3 linked regions of the Homo sapiens genome follow. The protein of the gene in region 3 purifies or fractionates together with the protein of the main gene of each other region. This does not show direct contact. Each region holds a gene or a part of one and is shown on either strand. Other genes may lie near its edges.

Evidence for each region.
Region 1: the proteins of GALK2 (region 3) and GNB4 purify together in Homo sapiens (affinity purification with mass spectrometry; 2 studies listed by BioGRID and IntAct, with this or other methods). This does not show direct contact.
Region 2: the proteins of GALK2 (region 3) and CCDC18 purify together in Homo sapiens (affinity purification with mass spectrometry; 2 studies listed by BioGRID and IntAct, with this or other methods). This does not show direct contact.

Annotation. Positions count from the first base shown.
Region 1 is NC_000003.12:179,395,563-179,399,479, forward strand, and holds the end of GNB4 (guanine nucleotide-binding protein subunit beta-4), read right to left. Parts: 3' UTR 526-3,917; downstream 1-525. UniProt on the Homo sapiens protein: Guanine nucleotide-binding proteins (G proteins) are involved as a modulator or transducer in various transmembrane signaling systems.
Region 2 is NC_000001.11:93,176,447-93,183,748, reverse strand, and holds the start of CCDC18 (coiled-coil domain-containing protein 18), read right to left. Parts: upstream 3,026-7,302; 5' UTR 2,897-3,025; exon of another isoform or gene 2,867-2,896; intron 390-2,866; 5' UTR 388-389; coding exon 254-387; intron 1-253. Other genes in the region: TMED5 (transmembrane emp24 domain-containing protein 5 isoform 1 precursor), read left to right, coding at 3,507-3,695.
Region 3 is NC_000015.10:49,165,733-49,173,266, reverse strand, and holds the start of GALK2 (N-acetylgalactosamine kinase), read right to left. Parts: upstream 3,021-7,534; 5' UTR 2,945-3,020; coding exon 2,892-2,944; intron 1-2,891. UniProt on the Homo sapiens protein: Acts on GalNAc. Also acts as a galactokinase when galactose is present at high concentrations. May be involved in a salvage pathway for the reutilization of free GalNAc derived from the degradation of complex carbohydrates.

The DNA.
Region 1 (3,917 bases), on a different chromosome or scaffold from region 3:
TAGTAAAGATAAGATAATTAATTAATCAACACCATAGGCAGCATCGCTTATTTAAAAATTACAGAGGCCAGGCTTGTTGGCTCAAGCCTGCAATCCCAGCAGTTTGGGAGATCAGGGTGGGATGGTCCCTTAAAGCCAGGAGTTCGAGACATGCCTGGGCAACAAAGCAAGACCCCTGTCTCAATAAAAACTTTTTATAAAAAATTGGCTGGGCATGGTAGTTCACGCCTATAATCCCAGCACTTTAGGAGGCTGGGGCAGGCAGATCTCTTGAGCCCAGGAGTTCAAGACCAGCCTGGGCAACATAGACCCTGTCTCTACAAAAAATATAAAAATTAACTGGGCATAGTGGCATGCACGTACCCATAGTCCCATCTACTCCAGAGGCTGAAGTGGGATGATCACTTGAGCACGGGAGGCTGAGGTTGCAGTAAACCATGACGACACCACTGTACTCCAGCCTGGGCAAGAGAGTAACACTCTCAAAAAAAAAAAAAAATTGTGGCATAAAAAAATACAATGAAATCTGGTTAAAAGCACTTTATTGATTACAGTATCAATTCACAACATTTCATAAAGCCACTGTACAAATAGAGGAATGAATCACTGTGTAAGAAAGATCTAAGAACAGTTAAATCATGATACAAGTCCATAGTTTATATGGTTTAGAGCTTTAAGAGCCTTAATCTAACACGTTTACCCTTCCCATAATTAGACTACTACTGACATTCATGTTCAGTTGACCACGAGTGTGTACAAATCATTCTAGGTAAAGACAAACACTTTCAGAATGCTTTAACAGAAAAATAATTTTAATCAACTTTAAAAACACACTTAGATGTGGATGCCTTTGGATAGGAAAATAGAAATGCAAGTGTTCAGATGCTTCTTTGAAAAGAAAACAATAGGATAGAGCACCATTGTGTAAAAGACAAAAGGCTTGAGATATCTACCAAGTATATCACTGAAGTTCTATTAATTAAGAAATAAATACTGTATGATGTAAGATTTTGTTGAATACATTTAACACCAGTTGGAATATAGCTTTTTCCCCCCCGTAATGCTGCTTTATCACAACTGTATTTTACAAAATCAGCAACTGGATTTAAGAAAGAAGACATAGGAGATTTTATCAACATGCAAACATTTGCTAAATACAAGGTGTACCATCAATGTGTGATTAATTAATAAGTTACTTTTTAAAATAAAGTGCTAGCTTAGATATTCTACTATAAACCATTTCATTGAGTACCTATTATGTAACCAATATTTTAAAATATACACTGAATCTGAGGCAACCCAAAATGAACAATGGAAAGAAAACTAGTAAATCTGAAATGTACTTCACATTCTACTTAATCTAATTTAAAATATAAATTCATTGTGCAACCCATAAGAAAGATGGTCCAACCTGTGGGTATTTTTAAAAATTCTAACAGGAGAAATCATTTAAAATTTTGCTTTTTCACAATGGCAAAAAGGAAAGAATTTGAACATAATATTTAATTTTTAAAAAAATTCAGCCTGACTCCGACCCTGAAGATTTCAGAAAGAACATCGTCACTATTAAAATGATGACAGGCCCAAATGGGGGATTGTTTAACCAGTTTTCCTAAGTTAAACCAAGAATAAGCCACAAGTATTCAATTGTGTTACAACTTAGATCTGAGACATTTACATCAAAGCATACTTCCCTGAACATGTTCACATTTAAAATGCTTAAGGTCTTATTATTAAATCCAAAATACCAAAAGTATTAGAGGAGCTAGTTATACAATATTGGCACAGCATTTTTAAGCAATAATAAAAGTTTCATTTTGTCACCTTAAGTCAAGATCCATTTATCTATTAATAGGTTAAGTCTGAAATTCTGTAACATATTCTAGAAGCACCTACATCCATTATTTCCAGGAGACTAGTTTACTACTATCATGCAATCGCTGAGGTCATATGAGTCTAAAATGAAGGGAATTGCTGAACAGGCCCTTTTGCTGTTGAGATATGAAGCCCAAATCTTTGCCTCTGAAGACGGAATTCAATGTGGTGTGTGTAATCACAAGTAAAAACTTGAGCTAGGGAGGAACCTTGGATATTCAGTCTACATCTCAAACAGCATAGCTGCCAAAAATGAGGCCTGTCCATTAAAGTGGAGGAGATATCCTTGCTGATGGCAAAAACTGCTTTTTCTTTTTGGGACGGAATCTTGCTCTGTCGCTCGGGTTGGAGTGCAGTGGCGCCATCTCAGCTCACCAAAACCTCCACCTCCTGAGTTCAAGTAATTCTCTGCCTCAGCCTCACGAGTAGCTGACAGGCGCCCACCTCCACGCCCGGCTAATTTTTGTATTTTTAGTAGAGATGGGGTTTCACCATCTTGGCCAGGCTGGTCTTGAACTCCTGACCTCGTGATCCACCTGCCTCGGCCTCCCAAAGTGCTGGGATTACAGGTGTGAGCCACCATGCCTGGCCAAGAACTGCTTGCTGAAGCAGGTTTTTGGGACGATATGCTCAACACCACAGGGTGATAACATACTTAGAAAAGAATATGTATCTCTAAAATATTCTTGCCAGATCTCAAAAAACTACTCTTCTTGACATGCTACAGAGTCAACAAATTAACCTTCTCAGGCACATTATGTTTAAATGTTTCTTAGAAGGTAAAGAAGGAAACCTGGCTGGGCACGGTGGCTCACGTCTGTAATCCCAGCACTTTGGGAGGCTGAGGCTGGTGGATCACTTGAGGCCAGGAGTACGAGATCAGACTGGCCAAGATGGTGAAACCCCATCTCTACTAAAAATACAAAAATTAGCCGGGCATGGTGGCACATGCCTATAGTCCCAGCTACTTGGGAGGCTGAGGCACAAGAATTGCTTGAACCCAGGAGGCAGAGGTTGAGGTTGCAATGAGCCAAAATCACACCACTGTACACTCCAGCCTGGGTGACAGAGTGAGACTCTGTCTTTAAAAAAAAAAAAAAAGGAACATTAACTGCAATATTCTTGATGATGCAAATTTTTAAAAACTAAATCCAGCCAGATTTTTCAGCCTTAAAAACTAAGATCCAAACTATTCAACATCTCTACAAATTATATACTCATTGAATTCAGGAACAATAACAGAATTCAACAATCAGCTCAACTTAAACTGTAAGTAAACAAATATATTTAGCAACTGGAGCCCCTATTATTAGAAAGCAAAGGTGTAACCATGAAGTAATTGTGGTAGTGAGGCTACTCTGTCGCCATTTGTTTATGTGTATAATTAACCACAAGTGTTAAATAGTTTTTAGTTGCCGAGTAAATATTTAATTATGGGAATTGCTTTAAACTCCTCTTCATAAACTTTAAGAACATTAAAATAAATGTAATTTTAAAATATGTTAAGACCATAGAATTCCTGTGGTCTGTATGCCTGTGACTACTATAATAACTTTTAAGTAGAGGAGATACTCTCTTACATATTTAAGGTTATTTTTATGCATAATAGAATTGCTTTCTTCTGACTAACCTACATGGCAAACTTTCCCCAACCCTCTTTTTCTGGAAATGAATACATTCCTTTATTCTTTTCTCAAAGAACTGTTCTTTATGAAGTGATATAAATAGCCTACAAATAAACATTAATAGCAAAAGTTCATATAATTTTTTTTTTTTCCAATTTGAGATGGAGTCTCACTCTGTCGCCTAGGCTGGAGTGCAGTGGCACAATCTCGGCTCACTGCAACCTCTGCCTCCCGGGTTCAGGCGAATCTCCTGCCTCAGCCTCCCGAGTAGCTGGGATTACAGGAATGTGCCACCACGCCCGGCTAATGTTTGTATTTTTAGAAGAGATGGGGTTTCACCATGTTGGGTAGGCTGGTCGCGAACTCCTGACCTCAAGTGATCTGCCCACCTTGGCCTCCCAAATTGCTGGGATTATA
Region 2 (7,302 bases), on a different chromosome or scaffold from region 3:
ATAAAAAATTAGTAAAGCCCAAAATATATATTTTATACTGAGTTCTAATACACTGAAAGTGTTTTTAATATGCAAAGAGGCTTCTCTAATATTCCTTATTTTTCCCTAAACTGAAAGTTACATTAAAAAGTATAAGAAAATTATTTCTTATTCCAGAGGCAGGTTAGAAACAATACATCATAATGAAATCCACACATTTTACATTGATGTATTTAAGGCACAGTGAATTCTATATGTGATTTTACTTACTTACCTGGATAACTCTTCCCCTAAACTCTGCAAACTCCATTCTGTTATCTTCAGTTCATGTCTTAAGGAAGCAACATTTGCAAGCAAACTTTCCTCTTCATTGTCTTTATTATAGTAGTCTGATGAACTAGATTCCATTTCTTAAAAAAAAAATGAATTTCTTGTACCTTGTCTGAAAGATTCTGTAGTTTCAGTCAAAATACTCACATGAATAGAATTTAACTCATTAGTTTTCTATTTTAAATGTTGTGAAATCTTTCATGGTGGTTTAAAACAAAACAAAAAATCAATAATAATGAATTTATCTGTAGTGTAAAGCCATAAAGGAATTCAATACAATTTCAATGAATGAATTTTTCATTTTAGCCAGGGTCTAGTTATTATAGTTCTCTTTTGTAAGCATACCTGATCTTCCTAACAATTGTTAATTATTTTCATTACATGTTAAGGAAACTAAGAATCAGACATTAAATAACTTGCTCAAAGTCACACAAACTGTAAATGGTGAAATCAAGATTTGAATCCAAGTCATTAGGATGCAAAGACCATTAAATTATGTCGCATTGTAGCTTTATTACATATTACATATCAATTTCAATATGAGGTGTTTGAACTTTCATAATTACATTACAAGTACTGGACATCTGATTAAATGGTATCATTACATTCATATTTTGTTAGAAGGGAATTTATTACCAGATAAAAGCTGTCTCCTCCTCCTACGCCCAATAGTTATAAAATTTTAAAAAGACACATTTACAAGTCACAACCACAGGGATCAAAATAACATTTGGCAGGTCAACTCATAGAAATGAAGAAAAGCTTTTGTTTCTTCAGTGGATGAGTATCTCTAGGGTTGTGAAACTACTAAATTTCTTTGCATATAAAAATCACAATAAAGCATCACATTTTATTATTGTAATTAATACAATAAAAAACTAAAGCTTTATAATCTCCACTACTACAGAGCTTTCTGCGCAATCTTAAAATTACATTCCTCTTTCAGATCCCATTTACCTTTTTCACTGTAGCATCTCCTTCAACGCCCTTCTTAGCATTCTGATCCCATCCCAAGTTCCAAAAGGTTAAAAGTCCTGTGCATTACGTTCAGGACCGCAATGTACTTAGAGAAGCTCAATATTTTGAATGAATTAACGAATACTAAACTGTCCTTCCTTCCCTCATCCAGTTAGAATGGTATGTTACATTTATTCCCCACTCAAAAATTCTCAGATGTAGGGAGGAAGATTAAAAAGAAAACTCCCACCTTATGGAAAGAAAGTGGCAGGAAATTAAATGAGATACTATGTAATCTTAATAGACAAACTGGTTCTATCCTCTTTCCCTTTTTTGTTTCCACAAATTTGCTTCTGCTTAAGTGACAAGACTCTCGCAGACAAGTCAATAAATCAGGTCCCCATCCTGCTTTACCTATTCAACATCTCTAGCTCTCTGTAGGATGGTGAAGGAGAAAAGGGTAGAGAAAATTGGGCAAATTCTATAATACCATTTGGTACTATATATTTCATCTTAAATCAGGTTTTAGTTCAACATCTGTGTATTGCCATGCAAGAAATAACTCCCAGTCCGGGCGCGGTGGCTCACGCCGGTAATCCCAGCACTTTGGGAGGTCAAGGCGGGTGGATCACGAGGTCAAAAGTTAAAGACCAACCTGGCCAAGATGGTGAAACCCCGTATCTACTAAAAATACAAAAAAATTAGCCGGGGGTGGTGGCGAGCGCCTGTAATCTCAGCTACTCGGGAGGCTGAGGCAGAGAATTGCTTGAACCTGGGAGGCGGAGGTTGCAGTGAGCCGAGATCGCGCCACTGCACTCCAGCCTGGGCGACAGAGTGAGACTCGGTCTCAAAAAAAAAAGAAAGAACTCCCTAACTCTTCTGCAGTAGCAATGAATATATTTGATACTAAAATGTTTTCATTTTCCTAGTGGGACATTTACTGTCAAATGAATGTCCTTAACTTCAATTTACAGTAGTTACCCAAAAAAGGCTATCTTCACTGACTATGCATACCTAGAAAAGCACATCATCCTACTCACCGACCTTAACAACATCATCTTTCGGCCCTAATTAACAATGTGTTTGTAGGTTTGCACACGCACACCCATCAAACGAAGGACAAGTGTTCTTTTATACCCTATGTATGTGATACAATGGGCTGTAGTCGAAAAAGATTCCTCATTTTGGAAAGAAGTCATAACTTTATGTAGTAGTCTCCTGTCTCAAGATCGCTTGACACAGCTAATCTTACATCCGTCTGAAAGAAGCGGGGGCGGGGGTGGGGGACGGAAGTGACAGTTTCCTCTTTTTTTTTTTTTTTTTAATTTTATAGAGACAGTGGCTCGCCATATTGCCAAGGCTGGCCTCGAACTCCTGGGCTCAAGCAATCCTTCCGCCTCGACATCCCAAAGTGCTGAGGTAACAGGCGTAAGCCACTGCGCCCGGCCTCCTATTTTTCATCAAATAAAATACAACCGTTCAGAGCAGCATGCTCAGCAACCACGAGGACCAGTCCCAGCGCATCCAAGGTGCCGGGAGGGAAAGGAACAGAACTCCCCCAGGTAAGCCGGTTTCCCCACGCCAAGGCGCAGTCGCTCACCACCCAAATCGTCGCTGGGGAGAGACCCACCCGGCGACTGCGCGCTTCGCACTCGAGTCTGCGTTAGGAAGCCTCTGACCCTTTCCCGGGCCCCTGCGCGTGGAAGCCTCGGACACAACTCGGAGAACCAGCGAACCCCGGCAGCACAGAATTCGAACCGCCGCGGGAGCCGTTGGGACGCGCCTACCCGGTCACTGCCCCGCCCCGGCGCAGACTGCGTGAGGCGCCGCCGAAGGCGCGGGGCTTGCCGGGGATCGTGGTCGGCGAGCGCGCCCGAGCCCACTAGCGGAGCCCGCCCGGGACTACATTTCCCACAATTACCGCCATGATGCCCATTGGTGGGGGAAGCCATGGGAACCGGAGGCCGTCAGGGGGAGAGGCGGGCGGCGCTCACGCCTGGCCTGAGGGGGCCGAGACTGAGGCGGTTGCGGAATAGGACTGCTAGCCCCGCCCAGAGTCCCTACCCTTTGGAGAACTGCGCTTCTCTTTCGGAGGGAGTGTTCGCCGCCGCCGCGGCCGCCACCTGGAGTTTCTTCAGACTCCAGATTTCCCTGTCAACCACGAGGAGTCCAGAGAGGAAACGCGGAGCGGAGACAACAGTACCTGACGCCTCTTTCAGCCCGGGATCGCCCCAGCAGGGATGGGCGACAAGATCTGGCTGCCCTTCCCCGTGCTCCTTCTGGCCGCTCTGCCTCCGGTGCTGCTGCCTGGGGCGGCCGGCTTCACACCTTCCCTCGATAGCGACTTCACCTTTACCCTTCCCGCCGGCCAGAAGGAGTGCTTCTACCAGCCCATGCCCCTGAAGGCCTCGCTGGAGATCGAGTACCAAGTAAGTGCGGAGGATAAACCAGCCTCCTTCCTTTAACCCAGCTGCACTGCGTTGTCGCCTCTCACCCGTTTAGAAACTTCTGGTGGACGGCCCTGGTGGTGAAGAGGCGAGGGCCGTTCAGGAAGCCAGCCCGCTCCGCGCAGGCGCGCGAGGCGAGGCGAGGCTCTCGCTGGGGCCGGGGACCCAGAACTTAGGCTGGACCTGGAATTGATGACTACCCGCCTTCTCCCCTTTCCTCCGGTGGGAAGGAGGCCAGAACTGGTGATGTCGCTGGCTTTTCTCTTTGTTTCCTAATTCGCCCACTGCTTTTCTTAGCCACTACACGCTCTCATACTGAGAATTTCACAATGCAGAACTGATACACGTTCTCCTTCATCATTGGACAAGGTGATGACACTTGTTTGAATCACCCCCACCCCTTTCACACAGTTCAGATGTTACAAATCACTGTCTTTGCTTCAGTTAAGGGTTTTTGGATTATGATCGTGTAATTGGCATTAAGCCCGATTTTGAAATTTTTTGGAAGACGCTGTTGCTATATTTAATGATACATTTCCGTTTAAGTTATATATCCATTATTTTCAAAAGATCAAATCGTATATTAAAACTTTATAACCTTTCTTTTCATTTTTTCATTGAGCATTGTAAGCATTTCCCTCGTGTCATTGTTTTTTTTTTTTTTTTTTGAGACGGAGTCTCGCTTTGTTGCTCAAGCTAGAGTTGGAGTGCAGTGGCGCTATCTCGGCTCATTGCAACCTCCGCCTCCCGGGTTCAAGCGATTCTCCTGCCTCAGCCTTCCGAGTAGCTGAGATTACAGACGTGCGCCACCATGCCCAGCTAATTTTTGTATTTTTAGTAGAGACGGGGTTTCACCATGTTGGCCAGGCTGGTCTCGAACTCCCGACCTCAGGCGATCCACCCGCCTCGGCCTCCCAAAGTGCTGGGATTACAGGCGTGAGCCACCATGCCTAGCATGTTTTCTTTTTAGTATCTGCATAATATTCTTGCTGGGAATTACCTTATTTTATGTAGTCATGGTGGTAGGGGGTAATTTCTTAGAAGAAATCTTGTTCGTTCCACAGCAAATTCCGATGTTTTCAGGTAGCAGTACAGGGGGGAAAGAAAAGGCATTGATGTGTTTCATCTTTCAGTTTTTTAGAAGTTAATTATAATCATCAAATGTTAATTTTTTAAGTTGATGTAGAGAATTGTTTTTAAATACCAGGTACTGTCACATACAGAGCAAAATAAAAAGTTGTAGAATTTTTTATACGATGGAACTTTAGGATTAAGTTGTATATAGATACACACGATAAGCACAGAGAATAAAATATCTAAAATCACATAGTGAGCAAAACTGAGGCTAAAACTCAGTGTTTCTTGATTTCCAGTAAAGTTCAAAAGTTCAACATTTACTGAACAGTTAACACGTGCCAGGAATTGTGCATGGAGGTGGGGGAGACGGAGGGGGAGCTGGGTTGTGCGGGATGTAGGTAAAAGAGAAAGAAAGAATCCCTCTTCTCAAAGAGCTTAATAAAGGTTACTGGCTCATAAACAGGTAATTTCAATAAAGGATGGCTAAGTACCAGTAGAGGAGGGTCACTTCTAAGGGTTTCAGAAGAGGATTCCTGGAGAAAATAAAATTTAATCCAGAAAGATGCTTAATTGAGACGAAAATGCCAGGAACAAGGGGCATTTCAGAAAAGCGAACAAAAAGATCCATAGTTCTTAAAATACATAGTGTAAGTGGGGATGGTTAGTGTGTAGTGGACACTACAAGTACTGAGTTTGTATTAGACTTTAAGACATATAAAGTCTAGGGTGGGAGTAGCAGAAAAGGACATCGGAGAGGCCAGAAGGCTGGGGTCATTAAGCATGAATCATAGCCTTGTTTGCCGTGCTGAGTAGGTTTTCCTTAATTTTGTACAAGTCCATTTAAGATTTAAGCAGATCACTGGATGCAGTGTGGAAAATGGATTTAAGGAGAGCAAAATTAGAGTCAAGGAAACTAACTAGAGGGCTAGTGAAATAGTCTAGATAAGAAAACAATTTGTATTAATAAAAAAATCTTCAGTATTTACACACATATTAGGGAAGATATCTATTTTAACTACTGTCCTCTTATAGTTAAGAGCACCAGCTCTTAACCTTAGCCTGGGTTCAAATCTTGACTCTGCCTACTTAAAACTTATGTGATCTTCTCACTTGTAAAATAGAGATAATAATTGTAACTACATCATAGAGTTGATTTGAAAAAGCATGAGTTAATAAATGCTCATATTCAGTGTAAAGTAGTCTATTAAAAAATGCTCATAGATCATCCCTGACACATAGTAAATAATCAATGAATGTTAATTTTACATTTATACCTCTATAGTTATGTAGCTGGCTTGGTTTAGCTTTATTCTTTACATCTTTAGTCACTCTTAAAGGGACTGTTCCTTTTTTTTTTTTTTTTTTTTTTTTTTTGAGACAGAGTCTCCCTCTGTCACTCTGTTACCCAGGCTGGAGTGCAGTGGCGCGACCTTGGCCCACAGCAACCTTCATCTCCCGAGTTCAAGTGATTCTCCCGCCTCAGCTTCCCGAGTAGCTGGATTACAGGCATGTGCCACCACACCCAGCTAATTTTTGTATTTTTAGTAGAGACGGGGTTTCACTATGTTGGCCAGACTGGTCCCAAACTCCTGATCTCAAGTGATCTGCCAGCCTCAGCCTCCAAAGTGCTGGGATTATAGGTGTGAGCCACCGCGCCCGGCTGGGACTATTCCTTTAAAACATTCTCCCTAAACAATTTGTTTTGATTAAGGAAAGAGGTAAAATCATTTGTCTGTAATCCTAGACAGTGTTGGTGAGATGTGTAGGGTAACTATCATCTTCCACCCTGTTTGTATTTCCCAACTTGTTTAATTTCCCAGTAACTACATCCTACTAATTTTTGTCTTAAAGTTAGTTTTTAAAATTTTATAGAACAATCTAGTTTTGTCCTTGGTTACTTATTGAAAATTTTACTAATTTCTTACTTTTTAGGTTTTAGGAGAATACTTTTTGGATAATTGACTAGCCTCACATTATATTGATAGAGGTTCTTGAAAACTTTAATGCCAATTCATGTATCTTATGACTAAAATAGATAATCCATTTAGAAATTTAAGTCATTCTTGCGTGCTTGATATGTGTCAGCACTATCCAAGTTGCTAGGGATACAATGGTGAGTGAAAATATCAGCTAGGTGCAGTGGCTCACACCTGTAATCCCAACAGTTTGGGAGGCCAAGGTGGGAGGATCACTCAAGCACAGGCGTTTCACACCAGCCTGGACAACATAGCAAGACCCCATCTCTACCAAAAATAAAGTTAGCCAGGCATGGTAGCACACACTTGTGGTTCCAGCTACTTGGGAGGCTGAGGTGGGAGGATCACTTGAGCCCAGGAGGTTGAGGCTATGGTGAGCTGTGATCACACCACTGTACTCCAGCCTCGGTGACAAGAGCGAGACCCTGCCTCAAAAAAATATATATATATATGTTTGTGTGTGTGTGTGTGTGTATAGTCTGTGCCCTCATACAATCAAGTATTAATTAATCAAATTATTACACAAATACATGTCA
Region 3 (7,534 bases):
ACCATAAAAAGGAATGATATACTGATACATGTTAAATGATGTACTGATACATGAACCTTCAGAACATTATGCCACATGGAAGAAGCCAGTCACCAAAAAAACACACATTTTATATGATTCCATTCATTTGAAATGCCCAAAGTGACTAAATCTATAAATACAGAAAACAGAGCAGTAGTTGTTTAAGGCTAGGTGAGGGGAAAGGGAATGGAGTTCTGGGGTGTGATAATCTAAGGGATGGCTGGGTTCTTTCTAAGAAAACGTTCTAAATTTGATTATGGTGATGGTTGCATAGCTCTATGAATACATTAAACCCATTTAATTGCAAACTTTAAATGAATTAGTTATATGATACGTGAATGTCAATAAAACTGCTACAAAAATAGCAATAATCCAACAAGTTTTAAAACTTAATCCAAAAGAGAAAGTAAAGATAAGAGATACAACTGCTAAGAATGCAAAGAAAGCCAGAACAGTGAAATTCAGAGTCTTACGGTACCGGTACCATGCAAGAGTGGGACACAGAAAGAAAATATTAGAACTTCAATTTCTATTTGATTTTTACATAAAAATAATAAAAATAAAATTAAGTTTTACTAAAATGTATGATATGGTTGACCAGTGCCTTTACTCAAAGGATCATGTGCCTTGTGAGGTTGAAGAGGCATCCTGGAAAAAGAATAAGAGTTCCACAAGAAAGCAGGCTGACCATTCATTCATTTTTTTTCCTTCTCAGCATATTGCAATACTTGACCGGTTAGGTGAATTTATAGATTATACTATTTAGATTTAATAAAATACATCCCTCCTAGAATGAGTAAGTGGCTGCAAAACATTCCTGCAAATAAAACATTGCTTGAAGCTAATAATTGCATTTTGTGCACAAATGAAAAACAAGAAAACGGCAGAGCTTATCTACTATGATCTCTTCTGTGGATAACACAGAATAAATATTAACAATAAATATTTGTTACATGAATAATATAAAAATCATGAAAAGCAAGAAGAACACTAAGGAAATTCAGTAAACAATTCTTCACTTTTAGTACATGTACCTATACTTGTTACCACCATCCTCCCCCAAACAGGGTAAATATAGATAGAAATGTTGATCTTTATTATTACAATCACATAAAATGGAAACACATTAGGAATTTACACATGGGTATGTTTTATGTAGAAGATTAAACTATAGACGTGGCACGGTGGCTCACGCCTGTAATCCCAGCAATTTGGGAGGCTGAGACGGGCGGATCACTTGAGGTCACAAGTTGGAGACCAGCCTGGCCAACATGGCGAAACTCCGTCTCTACCAAAAACACAAAAAAATAACGGGGCGTGGTGGCGGGCACTTGTAATCCCAGCTACTCTGGAGGCTAAGGCAGGAGAATGGATTGAACCTGGGAGGTGGAGGTTGCAGTGAGCGGAGACTGCGCCACTATACTCCAGCCTGGGCAACAGAACAAGACTCTGTCTCAAAAAAAAAAAATAAGACTAAACTACAAGAGATCAAGTTATTTTCATGTAACAAATTTCTCATTAATCTTATTGGAAGCATGCCTTTAACAGTGTGTCTTAATTAATTCAAATATATAAGGGCAACAGTGCTATACAAGAACCTCTAGAGTATATTAAAACATTCAAAGACATTGAGAAGTAGTCCAAAGCTGTGCTGGACTCTATAATAAGAAATCATGCTTCTTTCTGGTAACTAAAGACACACTGTTTGCTGGTTTAAGGATGAAAGAACATTTTCAAGTTGTAGTAAAGTATAATATCATCAACTGACACACGGTGGTAATAAACCACCAAGTAGGAAGAGCTTAAGGACTTGATGCCAGAGAAAAAAACTAACAGAAAAAAACTGAAAACAGCAAAGGCAGAGGGCCGGGCGCGATGGCTCACGTCTGTAATCCCAGCACTTTGGGAGGCCAGGGTGAGCGGATCACTTGAGCTCAGGAGCTCGAGACCAGCCTGACCAACATAGAGAAACCCCATCTCTGATGAAAATACAAAATTAGCCGGGTGTGGTGACGCCTGCCTGTAATCCCACCTACTCAGGAGGCTGAGACAGGAGAATCGCTTGAACCTGGGAGGCGGAGGTTGCGGTGAGCCAAGATGGCGCCACTGCACTCCAGCCTGGGCAACAAGAGCAAAACTCCGTCTCAAAAAAAAAAAAAAAAAGAAAAAGAAAAAGAAAAAAGAAAGGAAGGAAGAAAGAAAAGAAAAGAAAAACAGCAAAAGCAGAGAGTCAGGAAAGCCCTTCGCTAATGTAGCAGGTGACAGACTTCATTTTATGAGACCTCAGCCCCATTAGTCAGAACGAAGTATTTCTACAAAGTACCTGTAACTGAAAAGATCCTCCCCGAGACATCACTAAACTATTAGTTACTGTGTAGCTAGGGACTGCCAGCAAATTAATTCCCTAAGTGACAGTTCAGAGATTCTCGTGTTTTTGTTTTGTTTTGTTTTAAAGAGGATGCAGACACCAAGAAGGTTTTTGTGTTTGTTTTCAATTAATATTTAGAAAGAAGACTTTTAAAAAGCAGTATCAACTGGCATGCGAGACAAAGAGAGGAGTTCAGTGTGGATATGGGCATTTCTGCTGAAGCCCAGTAGAAAGAGTACACTAATTACAACAAGAAAAGGAAAAGAAGAATCTGCATGGATGAAGAAAAAAACATACAACCCTTCGTAGTAGTCAAGGTAGAATGTGTTTGCGGCGTGATCTTTTTTGCAAGCCCAGCCACGTGTCCTTATAGAATCCCAAGGGTTCCACTTGCTCCCCGGGACCAAAAGCAGCGCCCCAAGGGAGGAGCCAAGTGCTGTGGACCCGATCTACACGTAGCCAACCCAGCAGATCCCAAAGCCCGGCGTCTCCTCTCCCCCACCTAGGATGTTCTGCCACCTGGACCCGACGCGTAGCAGGGCTCTCTGTAGCCATATTTCGCTAGATCCTTCTTTCTCCTGTAGTTTCAAGTGTCTAAGCAAAGCTCCCAGAGCAATCACGAGACTTCTGTGACAGGAGCCGTTTTCTTCCGGGAGATAAACAGCTCCCGCCCTGCGGAAATCCTGCAGCTTCGCTGAGGTGGCTGCTTCCAATCGGCCCCTCCTCTGGCTCCTCCTCCCTGGACTCAGCCAGGGTTCCCTCCAAGCAGCAGTCAGGTACAGCCTCCGTCCTGCTCTTAGCTCCCAGGGAGGGACTAGGGCCTCGCAGGAGCCCCTGCGCAGAGCACGTGCGAAGCTGACTAGTGAGGTTTTCTTTTTGCGCCCTGTGGATGTCAGAGAACAGTGTCATAACCTGGCGCCCTACATACACCTAGTTTCTGATCTGTCTCGGGCTGCGTTTTTTTGTTTGTTTGTTTGTTTTTTAGTTATGGTTTTGGTCTTTATTGTTCAGCAGCTACTCCCCAAACAACACTAAAATGTTTAGCTATTGCTTCTTTGCGGATTACTTCCAAATCAAGCAACATAAAATTGATGTATCACTTGATTTAAATAGATTTGCATTTATTTACAGGTTAGAGGCATTGGTGGGCCTTCCTAGAACACAGTAGTGAAAAGACGGAAACACATGCCTTTTAATGTGCAAGACCCCTTAGCATCCAGTTAAACCTCTTCATTTTTCACTTATCTAGAGAAATCCTAGATGCCCTATCAAAAGTACACTATCCCTAGTACATCACTAACTTTTCCTTCCTTCATAGTTCTCCTATTTGCTTATGTATTTATTGTGTCTCTCACCACCTCCATCATCACTACCACTAGAAAGCAACTGGGGGCAGGCAGATTGGTTTTTAATGAATAGGTAAGATAAACTGAATGAACGACGAAAGGTGAAATGATGTGCCTGAGGTCACAGTGATCATTGGGAACAAAACTGGAATTAAAATTCAGATCTATTAACTCTCAATCTAGTGCACTTTGCACCTCAGAAATATTGAGATTAAACCCAAGCAAAGACAGCTAGCAATAAACCCATTCCAAAGTTTCCTGATTAAGGAAGTTTGAGCCAACATGCCCAACACACTAGGGGTAGTAGCATAACTCAGAGAGATTCGATAAGTTGTATACATCAGTAAGTTACTGCTCCAGAATTTCTATATGTATATGCATACTTTGTCTCCATGTTTCCTTCCCCCTTCTGTATACATGTATACAGGAGGAAGGGGGAAGGAAACATGGAGACAAAGTGTGAATGGACAATAAAGCATAGCCAAAGAGTGGCAGCCCCTTGGCACCCCGTTGGGTTATTACTGTAAATGATACATCAAAGAAACAAAGTTACTCTGGTCTCAGGGCAGCTTTCTCACTATTATTTCAGTCCCTCTTTATCATTTTCAAATGAATGAATTATATCTTCTTGTTTCTGGGCCCCAATAAATCCCAGTTTGATGTTCATTTTGGTTTAATTTTGAGTAACAGGAGTCATCACTGTCACTTGTAAATAGTTTTAATAGGGAGATAACCTAAATTTTAAAAAAAAATGTAAAATGTTTAGGGACATCAGTAAATACAGAAAAGAACAGAATCTTTTTTTTTTTTTTTAGATGGAGTTTCGCTCTTTGTTGCCCAGGCTGGAGTGCAATGGCATGATCTCTGTTCACTACAACCTCCACCTCCCAGGTTCAAACGATTCTCCCGTCTCAGCCTCCCAAGTAGCTGGGAATACAGGCAGCCGCCACCACACCAGCTAATTTTTGTATTTTTAGTAAAGACGGGGTTTCACCATGCTGGGCAGGCTGGTCTCGAGCTCCTGACCTCAGGTGATCAGCCCACCTCGGCCTTCCAAAATTCTGGGATTAAAGGTGTGAGCCACCGTGCCCAGCCCAGAATCATTTTTTATTCAGATGTTTCTAATATATTCTTTTGCATTAGTTGAAAAATAACAAATTTTAAAGTTTTGAATTTTTTTAACAGTCCAAAATAAACTCATTTTATACAGGGTTAAAAAAAAATGACTGTAGAAACTGTTTCGAAAAAGAATACTTCCTACTGAATATGTACTTGATGACCGAACATTAACTTTGCTAAATGAAACCAGATGGCAAATCATTAGTTTGGACCTTGGATACATTGCTATTGCAGTCTCAACAAAACCGATGCAGACTAGAAAGCACCTTACAGAGCAATTAGTAAAGCATCCTTTTTTGAAATGATTGGCACAAAGTAAAACAGGATTAACAGAGCTAGAACTAAAACCTAGGTCTCTAGACTCCTAGCCTAGAGGCCATACTACTTCTGAATATGTGACTTTTGTTGAGACCCCAGTAAACTGTGCTTAAAAATAAATTATTGAAATGATTAGAATCCTTGTCCCAAAATAAAATGTGTACATTATAATTTTCATAAAGGATTACTCTTAAAATAACCTGTCCAAACTACTAGAGAACCCCAAATGGACACCAAAAACAAAACATTACTTTCTTATACTACCTTCCTTATACTAGGCATCTTGCTAAGTAAGCACTTTGCGTATATTATTGTCTCTTTAAACCTTTCCAACAATCCTTATGGGATAGAAAAATATTATTTCCTTTTCAATTTCAAGAAGATATTCCTTTAGTTCTTATTAGACATATCTAATAGTGAAAACATTTAAACATTTGGCTGGGCACAGTGGCTCATGCCTATAATCCCAGCACTTTGGGAGGCCAAGGTGGGCAGATCACCTGAGGTCAGGAGTTCGAGAACGGCCTGGCCAACATGGTGAAACCCCATCTCTACTAAAACTACAAAAATATAGCCAGGTGTGGTGGCGGGCGCCTGTAATCCCAGCAGCTTGGGAGGCTGAGGCGGGAGAATCGCTTGAACCCAGGAGATGGAGATTGAGTAAGCCAAAATCACGCCACTGCACTCCAGCCTGGGCAACCAAGAGCGAAACTCCATCTCAAAAAAAAAGAAAAGAAAATATTTAAACATTTATATTTTACAGTATTTTTATTTTCACAAATCCTGAACCTCTGGTTCTTTGCTTTTTGCAAGTAGGCACTCTTACAATAGGTTTAGAATCTGAATTATAAACTAATAAATGGTATATTATGATGGAGTCTTAAACAGAAACCTAATTAATAAACTTGAAATTGTTTCTCCTCAAAGGATATTAGTCTCCATTCAGATAAAATATTATAGCAAACTAAACAAAAACAAAACAAACACTAAAATGAAAGAATACAAAAACTTGATCCAAAATATGAGTTAAAGCATGGGTGTTAGAGACTTACAGACCTGGCTAGTGCCTATTGATGTTTCTCAGCTTAGAAATCACTTCCTTCAGGAAGTTTTCCATGTTCTCTACCCAAAACTAAATGTCTAAGACCACAGAGGGATTGACCATTTATCTGAAATAATGTTATTTCTGTGGTTTAATCTGTTTGTGCAACCTCTGGAAAATATTTCCTATTTTGACTTACAATAAAAACTATTGTTCACAATTGGGAGAATCTACTTCAGTGACCTATTTTGGATATTTTCTCATTATAGTAAATAATATGTAATACTTGTTTATGTCTTCTTTATAATGATGTTACATTCCTTCTTTTTTGTTGTTGTTGTTGAGACCAAGTCTCGCTCTTGTTGCCCAGGCTGGAGTGCAATGGCGCGATCTCGGCTCACTGCAACCTCCGCCTTCCGGGTTCAAGTGATTCTCCTGCCTCAGCCTCCCGAGTAGCTGGGATTACAGGTGCCTGCCACTTAATTTTTGTATTTTTAGTAGAGATGGGGTTTCAACATGTTGGCCAGGCTGGTCTCAAACTCCTGAACTGAGGCCATCCACCTGCCTCGGCCTCCCAAAGTGCTGAGATTACAGGCGTGAGCTACTGCACCCGGCCCCTTATTCTTCTGTTCATAAAATAGATACTGCTCTCTAGTGTATATAATCATTAAATGGCAAAAGATAAACTCATGAATCAGAGAAATCTATATTTATGTAGTTATGGAGGAAATAAAAATTGTGCAAAAATGCTTTAACCGAACATAGATTGTTTTGCAGAGTGAAAAACAAAGCAAAACAAAACGAAGACTCTAAGCACCCTCTGCTTGCCCAGTCATACAAAGCATCACATCAGTACTCTAATTACTTGTTTTCTGTCTAGTCTAAGTTTTTCTACTCAAAGTGTGGTCCTCAGAACAGCAGCATCAGCGTCACTTGAAAGTTTTTAGAAATACATTATCTTGGGCCGGGCGCAGTGTAATTCCAGCACTTTGGGAGGCCGAGGCGGGCAGATCACAAGGTCGGGAGATCGAGACCATCCTGGCTAACACAGTGAAACCCCATCTCTACTAAAAATACAAAAAATTAGCTGGGCGTGGTGGTGGGCGCCTGTAGTCCCAGCTACTCGGGAGGCTAAGGCAGGAGAATGGCGTGAACCTGGGAGGCGGAGCTTGCAGTGAGCGGAGATGGCACCACTGCACTCCAGCCTGGGTGACAGAGCAAGACTCCGTCTCAATAAAAAAAAAAAAAAAAAGAAATACATTATCTTGGGCCCAGACCTACTGAATCAGAATCTACAATGCAAGTCAAACATGCCATTTT